Linked DNA regions of Homo sapiens: all the other regions are reported to be linked to region 3. Evidence: microRNA targets listed by miRTarBase, many of them from high-throughput screens and not tested one by one. Region 3 holds a microRNA gene; each other region holds the end of a gene's coding sequence. Distances are between the middles of the regions.
What was found. The annotated mature microRNA hsa-miR-891a-3p reads AGUGGCACAUGUUUGUUGUGAG and lies in region 3 at 2,027-2,048, opposite strand. An mRNA with a match to its seed (bases 2 to 7 or 8) in the 3' UTR can be bound and repressed. Matches are read on the target gene's strand: a 7mer-m8 pairs with bases 2 to 8, a 7mer-A1 pairs with bases 2 to 7 and ends in A, and an 8mer does both.

Region 1: the mRNA of DGAT2L6 is a reported target of hsa-miR-891a-3p. Seed matches in the 3' UTR shown: 7mer-A1 at 2,357-2,363.
Region 2: the mRNA of NFAM1 is a reported target of hsa-miR-891a-3p. The part of its 3' UTR that is shown has no 7-base or 8-base seed match.

The regions. Positions count from the first base shown.
Region 1 is chrX:70,204,815-70,207,923 of GRCh38, reverse strand. It overlaps DGAT2L6 (diacylglycerol O-acyltransferase 2 like 6), which reads right to left. Exons shown (of 7, transcript NM_198512.3): 7 at 2,220-2,972. The coding sequence ends at 2,818. Among named protein-coding and RNA genes, the nearest start is that of AWAT1, 28 kb to the left of the region's middle.
Region 2 is chr22:42,382,490-42,385,598 of GRCh38, reverse strand. NFAM1 (NFAT activating protein with ITAM motif 1) reads left to right here. Exons shown (of 6, transcript NM_145912.8): 6 at 379-3,109. The coding sequence ends at 438. Among named protein-coding and RNA genes, the nearest start is that of LINC01315, 15 kb to the right of the region's middle.
Region 3 is chrX:146,025,778-146,028,886 of GRCh38, forward strand. It overlaps MIR891A (microRNA 891a), which reads right to left and starts at 2,095; the gene lies at 2,017-2,095.

The sequences.
Region 1 (3,109 bases), 76 Mb from region 3:
AAAGAAACCCCCACCCATTAGATGTCATTCTCCTTTCCTTTCTTCCTTCACAATCCCTGGTAACAACTAATTTATTTTCTCTTTCTCTTCTCTCTTTCTTTCTCTCTATCTCTATATTTGCTCATTCTGGACATTTCATAGAAATTTCATAGAAATGGAATCATGCAATATATGACCTGGCTTCTTTCACTTACCATAATGTTTTCAAGGTTCATCTGTTTTGTAGCATGTATCATCACTGCATTTTTTATTGCCAAATAGTATTCCGTTGTATGGATAGACCCCAATACATTTATCCATTCATCAGTTGCTAGACCTTTGGATTGTTTGCACTGTTTTGCTATTAGGAGTAATTCTGCTGTGATCATCTATGTACAAGTTTTTGTGTGACCATGTTTTAAATTTGGGGGTTATATAACTAAAAGTAGAATTGCTGGGTCATATGGTAACTCTACACTTAACTCTTTGAGAACTGTCAAACTGTTTTCCAAAGTGGCTCTACCATTTTACCATCAGCAATGCCCAAGAATTCCGTTTCTCCATATCCTAACTAATACTTATTATTGTCTATCTTGTTTTATTATAGTCATCCTAGTGGGTGTAAAATGGTATCATGGTGGTTTTGATTTGCATTTTCCTAATGATTAATGATTTTGAGCACTTTTTCTTTTTTATTAGAGACAGGGTCTCACCCTGTCACCCATGCTTGAGTGCAGTGACGTGACGATTGTAGCTCACTGCAGCCTTGAACTCCTGGGCTCTAGCAATCCTCCCACCTCAGTCTCCTGGTAGCTGGGAACACAGGCATGCACCACCACACCTGGCTAATTTTTAAATTTTTTATAGAGATGGGGTCTCACTATGTTGCCCAGGCTGGTCTCGAATTCTTGGGCTCGAGCAATCCTCCCTCCTGGGCCTCCCAAAGTGCTGGGATTACAGGCGTTAGCCATTGCACCTGACCCTTACTTTTTCATTTGTATAGCTTCTTTGGAGAAATGTCTATTTAAATCTTTTGCTTATTTTTAAAATTGAATTGCCTTTCAGTTGTTGAGTTATAAGAATTATTTATCTATTCTGGCTCCTAGACTCTTATGAGATACATGATTTGTAGGTATTTTCTCCCATTCTGTGGGTTGTCTTTTCACTTTCTTAATGGTGTCCTTTGAAGCACAAAAGTGTTTAATTATAATGGAGCCCAACTTATCAATTTTTTATTTTGTTGTTTGTGCTTTTGATGTCATATATAAGAAGCCATTGCCTAATCCAAGATTATGAAGCTTTACACCTATGTTTTCTTCCATGAGTTTAATAGTTTTGACTTTCACTTTAGGTCTTTGATCCATTTGAGTTAATTTTTGTATATGATATGAGGTAAGGTCCAACTTTATTTTTCTGCATGTGGATGTCCAGTTGTTTCAGTATTGTTTGTTGAAGACTATTCTTTCCCACATTGAATTGTCTTGGCACCCTAGGTGAAAATCAATTGACCCTCTGTGTTCTCAATTCCATTCTATTGATATAGAAAGGTTTTTTAAATTAATCAATTATTTTCCCTGAGGCCTAATATAGGACCACTGTGAGTAGAATCCATGCCATTTTTGCCCACACTTATGAACTAATTTTGGTGGAGTGCCATGGGGCCTCATTTAGGAAAATGAAGCTGAAAAGTGGGTCTCCAGAAAATGAGGAATGGGGACATAGAGTGGTGCATTGGAGAGAACTCTGGTTTGAATGCTAGTTCTATCCAAAGTTGTGTGGCTTTGGGCAAGCTACTAACCCTCTAGGAGCTTTAGCTACTGTGAAATGGAGGTGATGACAATCTCAATCTCACTGGGCTTATGTTTAGTATTGAGAGACAATGGTTATGAAAGCAATGTCATGGTCCCTGGAACATAGAAGGGACTTGACATCAAGCAAACTTACAGTTGGTGCATGGTCTTGTGGCTCCCTCCCTTCTGACATAGGATGGTTATGTGGGATCAGGAGAGGTGGGCTACACAGCGGGTACCTGTGCCAGTTCCCATGTTTCTGCTCCTGTCTCTTACACTTTGCAGCAGCTATGGTTCCATTCCCCCACCTTTTCTGTCCGGGGAAGTATGAAGGGTAAATAAAGAAGAGGAAAAGGGCTCTCCATAGAGCAGCTTTCTGGCCAGAAGGGAAAATCTTAGGTTTGAGGGAAGCCCAATAGCGAACCACAGAATAATCAGGAAATAGTGGTATCCTGTTTTATATGTCTAGAACTTTATTTTCAAAGAAGAAACAATGTAACTGCATTGCCAATCTAGAACTCTATCACAACTGACGGAATCCTGTCTGCTTGGACCAGGCAGCTACAGTTCAGGTCCCTGGTTTACCTTGTGGCAGTTCCCAAGTTGTAAGGAAAGGACCAAGAGGAAACAAACTATCCCTGTTCCAAATAAAGCTTCTAAGTCTAAACCTACGTAGTGATGGTGAACTAAGGTTTAGGAGAAAGGGGCACAGTATTCTTTGTGATCAGAGAGTTGGCTGGAATGATTCATAAGACTCCCCAACTGGGTTGTTGCCCTAAAATAACCAGGGGTGATACAGCCAACTCCTCTGGCTAGCCAGCCCTCCCCAGTCCTCCCCTGCCCCTCTGGTTCTTTCCCCTAAGCCTGCCTCAGCCACTTGGGAGAGGACTCTATTGCTAGAACTCTGATTTATTAAATAATTTCTGGCTTGGATGGTCTCCTCTCTCATCCTTACGATCTTTCCCTCTCCTGGAATTCTTCTTTTTCTGTGGCTCTACTTGGATCCCTCATGGCTTTGGGGGTTGATCAATGGGGAATGTGGCTCCTGTTATGTAATTGTCAGCTCTTGGGTCTCAGGGAGGCCATATTCAACTTTGTGTTGGTCAAAGAGCTTGCGCAGGGCACTGATGTAGAGTGCGTGATACTTGTCTACTGTCTTCTGGTTTGGCCTCTTAATCCTGGGAATTGGAAGGGGTTCCCCAACTATGAAAAAAGAAAAGAGACAAACATCAGAGTTCCCCCCTCAACTCAAACTACTCATCCCTCACTGGGAGCCATGTACTGAAACTCAGTATCTGGCTTTCCTCCCCTTCTTTCTTTCTTTCCCTTTGCTCCAGTCT
Region 2 (3,109 bases), not on the chromosome of region 3:
GAGGGAGGGAGGGGGTCCCTGGGACCCTATGATGAGCCCGCAGGCAGAGTGAGTAGGGGGCAGTCATGGAACAGGTGTGTCTGTGGGAGGAGGCGCATCCCACACATAGGGCAGAAGGCAGAGGGCAGAGCTGTGGGGGAAGCTCTGAGGCTGGAAGGGCAGGCCCATGTGGCTGGAGGGCAATGGGCAGGGGTGGGGGCAGCATGGTGGGGGAAGAGGCTGGGGAGGTGGGCTTGGAGACAGAGGGCAGGCCCCCCATCAAAGCTACACAGGAAGTGATCTGTTGCCCTCTGGCTAAAACTAAATTAGTGCAAGTTCATTCTTAATGGTCATTCTCTCTCTTTCTCTCCTTCCCTCCCTTTCTTCTTTTCTATCCAGGAGAGACCGCATAGATTCGAAGATGATGGCGAACTTAACCTGGTCTATGAAAATCTCTAGGATGGGCTCCACCGCTCATAGAGCTTGCCCTGGGTCAGAGGACCGGGGCAGCCCCTGCCACCAAAGGACTTGATCTGAGTTGGGAGTAAGGCCCCCAGGGACACCCCATCATTTCACCCTCACATTCAAGGCCCTTCCTGTCTTGGCCGGCCCCACTGCCCCCCCATTCTATGCCCCAACCACCAAGGCTTTCCCATCTTGGGGCCTTTGCCCAGGCTGTTCCTTCTGCCAGGCAGGCCCTTCCTCCCTTGGCCCAACCAGCAAAGCGCCCCTCAGTCTTCAAGGGCTTTCCTGGATGCCACCCTTGCCCAGAGCCCTGCTCACTGCCTCATGCTGACAGAGCAGCATGCTCTCTTGGCACCAGCCTGCACCTCAGCCAGTAGGGCAGCCTCTGAGCTGAGGGAGGACCCTGCAGGGGCGCCTAGCAGTGCTGTGTGGGGAGCCGAGGTATGGAGGAGCTGGGGAGCAGCTATGCAAATCCCTACCTACCCAGCTGGGCCAGAGGCACGAGGCAGCCAGGCAGGGTGGGAGCAGGGGCTGGCGTGGGAGGTCTGGGGGACAGACAAGGATGATGGACCCCTCAGAGGCAAGACTAGGATCAGGGACAGATCTGGAGGCCCAGGACATGGCTGAGAGGTGGTCAGCAGGCTGGGGGCATGGAGCAGAGAGGGCTTGGGTACAAGCTGGAGAGGAAGGAGATTCTGGCATGTTGGGGTGAGGGCAGAGGGACAGATGAGGGGAGGAGGGTGCTGGCTAAACAGGAACTGAATGAATGGCCTGAAGCTCCCTCTCCCAAGGGTTCCCACTCCCATTGGCCTGGCCCTGTACGTGCACTCTGTCATCTCCTTGGTCACCCTCTGCTCCAGGCCTTCTCCACCACAGGACCTCAGCTGTCCCTCCTTCTACCCAAGGTGGAGTCCCCCAAAGTCCCTTCTGTCTGGCCTATCCTGTGCCCACCACCTGTGGCTTCATCCAGCCCTCCTCCTCTATCTTTATCTGCCATAGGCCGCAGCCCTGGCCCCCTGTGGATTGAGGTCCCAAGTGGTCCAGCTGTGGGGTTTGGTGCTGGGACCCTCAATGGCAGCCGGAAGGTCCCTCTGAGGCAGAAGCTCAAGCCCCATGGGGACAGTGGCTCCCCAGTGCCTGGCCCTGAGCCATTTCTGCTGTTTCAGGTGCCCACATCACCCTCATTTCCTCCTCGCAGTAGCCCTGCACCGTGGCCAGAAACCCATCCACAGGCAGGCAGTGGCTGGGGTCCGGGTGCCCCGGGCTGTTGGGCTCTGCTTCCTCCCTCTGCTCCCCCATGTCTCCCTGAGTTCTCCCACCTTTGCTCATTTGTAAAATGGGCAGGTCAATCTTCCCACCCCACCGTGTGGGCTGCCCCAACCCCAAATGTGCCCAGGGAGGGGGGGGAACCCAAGGCACAGGCCCCGCCCCTGCCCCCAAGCAGCACTGGGCTACTGGCTCACAGAAGCACCTTTGGTTCTGCAGGTCATGCCCCTCCCTGCAGGGAAGGGAAAGCTGGTGGTAGAGGCTGGGCACAGACTGACGTCCAGAAGAAGTCCCTTGGCCCTGCTAGGGTGGCACCAGACTTCTCTGGTCCCACAGGACAGCCAGTGGCCTCCCAACTTGGTTCTGGGCCCCCGCCTGCAAGCACACATGGCAAGGAGGGCTTTAGCAGGCTCACATAACCGAGTGGCAAGGCCCCTGCTCCCAGAGGCTGGATTTGAATGAACTCCGGGCCTGTTTGGGGAGGTGAAGCTGCCAGGTGTGCACAGGGGCCTCCCAGGCTCCTGGCTCCACCAGCCAAGGAGGTGGGGGCAAGGGTCAGGGCAATGGGGGACAATGCCGCTCAGGGTGCAGTGAGCTCCCCTGGGAAAACCGAAGCCAGCAAGACCAGGAGAGGGCCACCTCACTGGGCCTGCCTCCCCCACCTCCTGGGCCTCTCTGACCTCAGCTCCTAGACCCTGGACCCTTGGCTGGGACTCAGCATTTTCCAGTCTTTTTCAGGGGTAGACAGGGGAGCCTGGGTTAAACTTTACCACTGTGCCCTGGCCCAGGCATCACCAACACGGCCTCCCTGCAGCTGCCCTGCCACCGACAGACCCCGATTAAACCCACACCTGGCCTTGGCCTCCCCTGCTCTATACCTTGCATGGTTTTTGCCTCACTTGGAATAAAATTCCAACTCCTCCCTGTGGCGTAGGAGGTTCTTGGGGGCTGACCCATCACCCCTCTGGTGGACAGAGACATTGCCAGCGTGGTGGTCGTCTGTGCTTGGTTCAGGGCAAGGCTGGGAGGCAGTGGGTGCTGAGGTCTTCAGTGAGCAAGGAGAGAGGCAGGGAGGAGGAGGAGGAGGAGGAGAGCACAGCATGAAAGGACGGGACCCTAAAGGGCTTTGGCCCAAGGGAGGGTGGGGCAAGAATGTTCTGAGACTTCTGTGGGCAGCAAAGAGGACTGAGCACCTGTTCTCCAGCCCCCAGGACTGAGAGCCTGCAGAGACAAGCTGGCACAGGGCGAGGGGTGGCAGGGAACTTCAGGGTGGGAGGTGCATGGGGCAGGCGGGAGGAGGAAGAACAGAGAGGGGACAGAGAGGGTATGAATGGGAGCTCCTGGGGTGCAGGCTTGCTTTCCACTATGAATGGGTGGAGGAGGGAAGAGAAGAAAATTG
Region 3 (3,109 bases):
ACTTACTGACTGTGATGATGTGGAATGAGAATTTCTTTAATACAGCAATGCATTAAAAATGGAGATATCACTGTCTATCTAGAGTCATTAAAACATTAAAACCATTAGATTTGTAAGGGTGGGAGAGAACAAAGAGACACTACACAAAGTACTTACTTCACAAACCATCAGTATTAACTATCAATAAATAACGGAAAAACAAGAATCTTAGCAAAAAGAAAGACGAATCTGTAGAAGTGCCCAACTGTATACTCAGATCTCCGAAACATACAAACATTTCCAAGAGGAGACTTCAGGATGGCTAACAACTTAAAGCCCTTACCAGATGAATTAGGTGGAGCAATGCTTTACTGAAAACTATTTAAAAATCCTATAGGTGTAAACATCTCACTAGAATGGTCTCAAAAATAATGAACGATATCAGAGGTAAGATGGTAATGAATAGGTAATATGTAAAAATTATGAGCTTTTTGTACATAGGCCTCTACATGTCTAAGGATTTCCAGGCTCTTACCATTTGGTAATCGGAGATTACTGTTTCCAGATCAGATGAAGGAATAGTGACCAAATTAATCTGCTGTCTAAAACAAAGAAAAACCAGATATATACAGAAAAACATGTCTTTCAGACACTGTAGAGTGATCTGTGAGAGAGGGGACACATTAGAACAGTCCGTCCATTCTCCTGCCAACTTCTCAGAGAGAGAATATTGACTCCAGTGCAAAGAATGGGAACCCAGGCAAAGCCTGGCAATTTTCAATATTAACAGATTAAAATGGAAAAAAAGAGATCATTTCAATTGATGCGGAGAAATATGTGACTAAATCTAACATCCATATCTAAAAATAATAACAGCAAATCAGGCATAGAATCGAGTATATCCTCAATTGGTTGAAGGGCTTCTATGAAAACGCACAGCTAACGGAAGACTTAATTGTTAACATTTTTATGTTTGACTCCTAAGATCAGGAACCAGGTGAGGATGTCCCATTCACCATTTATATGCAACAATTATGCCAAATTAAAGTAAATGATCAGGTAAGGACATAATATTTTATAATTTGCAATCATGGATGAATAAAATCAAGTCTGTCATCTTCAACCATTAACTTCCCCTTACCTGTGTTTGCAGTGGCGTCAACGCTTGCACTGCAAATAAATTATCTCTATGGGCATAGATATCCACAGGGTATTCTAGAAAAATATGTAAATTGAATCATAAAGCAGAATACATTACAATATGTATATGAAAAACCACCAATGAAATCCTATGAGTGATAACTGATGATACCCTTCTTAGTACTAATATAATAGCAGTGTTACTAGGACTGATACCATTAGTTATAGTACTAGTACTGCTTGCAGTAGTACTAACAGGACAATTTGCTTAATGACTACATGCCTGGCAGATATGTACTTCAGATTTTCATATGCATTTCCACATTCCATAACTACAACAAATTGTTCCCAAAGAAACGATATCCGAAAGTTTTGATTTGTCAGTGATTGAGGACATGTATATAACGTACATTTGCAAATGGAAAAAGACACACAGAAATGCAGAGATAATCACAGTAATCACAGATAACCATATAATCACAGAACAGTTTTGATTTGTCATAGCAATTGAGGACATGTGTAGAACATACATTTGCAAATGGAAAAAACCAGAAATGCAGAGATAATCACAGTAATCACAGCTAATCATGTGATCATAGAACAACATTAAGACTGCTACGCAGCGTTAACCTCACAGAAACCATCCACATTAACCTCAGAAAAACAGAAAATAAGAAGAAATTCATCTTGCTGCTACCTGTCCTCTGATCTCTGACCTAATAAAAGGTGTTTATTGAACATGCTGTCATTTTTACCAAAGTACTAGTAATACAGTCTCTACCGCTATGATTACTCTACTACCAGTGTCACTACAAGGAGGTGAAGGAGAAGCAGCAGTAGCTACATAACTGATGACTTACATGGTTTGCAGTGTCCATGAGGCCTGTAGAGATTATCTCTTTTGACCCTCACAACAAACATGTGCCACTGAGTATTTTACTGAATCAGTGGCTCAGGTTCGTTGCAAGGATTAAGGAGACAACATTTGTAGACTCTTTGGGAACCTAGAAAAAAACAAAGAAGCTACGTAATTATAATATGACTATGCAACATTGAATACCTAAAATAAATGACATACTAATTTACTATTCACAACCTGTGTAACTATCAGCATGTATATTTTCTTTCCCATTTGTATTAGTGATAATTTCCTGGTTCTGCAGTTGGAGGATGAAAATCTTGAAGGGGCTGGTAGTAAAGCTCTACCAATCCATTGTAAGAATTCCGACTTCCCAAAATTTGCAAATCACTGATTATGATACTGAATGAGGCTATCTATACCGAATGCAATTCTACAAATATAGACAATGATTCTCAACCCAGAAATACGTAAAATGTGACAACTACAAGATAAGTTTATACTGGGAAGAAAAAAAGACAGATTAAAAAGAATGACAACCTTCTCCAAACAACCAGCGATAATTGAGTGAAGACTCGTTGAAAAGCTAAATTTCTCTAAAAATATACATATGTATACATATATTCACAGATATCCATGCATACATAAGATAATGTCCCTGAAAAGCACACACACAAAAAATTGAAGGGATTATGTAATTCAGGCTTTATTCACAATAATAATGAGCAAGCCCTATATTGTTCATTTCTCTCAAATTCATTGCCTGTCCATATCTAACTCTATTTTTTTAAAGAATTTTGATAAAATTCTTCTACTGCTTATTGCCTAATGAAGTTCAAAGATATTAATAAAAAGATATATGAAGGAAAAATGTGGAGAATCTACCACAGGAGTTCCTAAATGGTATTCTTAACAGTTCTATAATAATAATCAACACTAGGTAATTGCCGTTTACAAATTCAAACTTTCCAAGAAAACCAAGTTGGTGTCTGATATGACACGTTAAATGAAGCAAATGGCTGTGAAACTTATGTTGAGCTGACAGTTCATACAAATTCATGATGTGATAGGCCAGTTGTACAATTAGAAGTAACTCTTGGTGACTTAACAACTCTGTTTATGCAGGATATT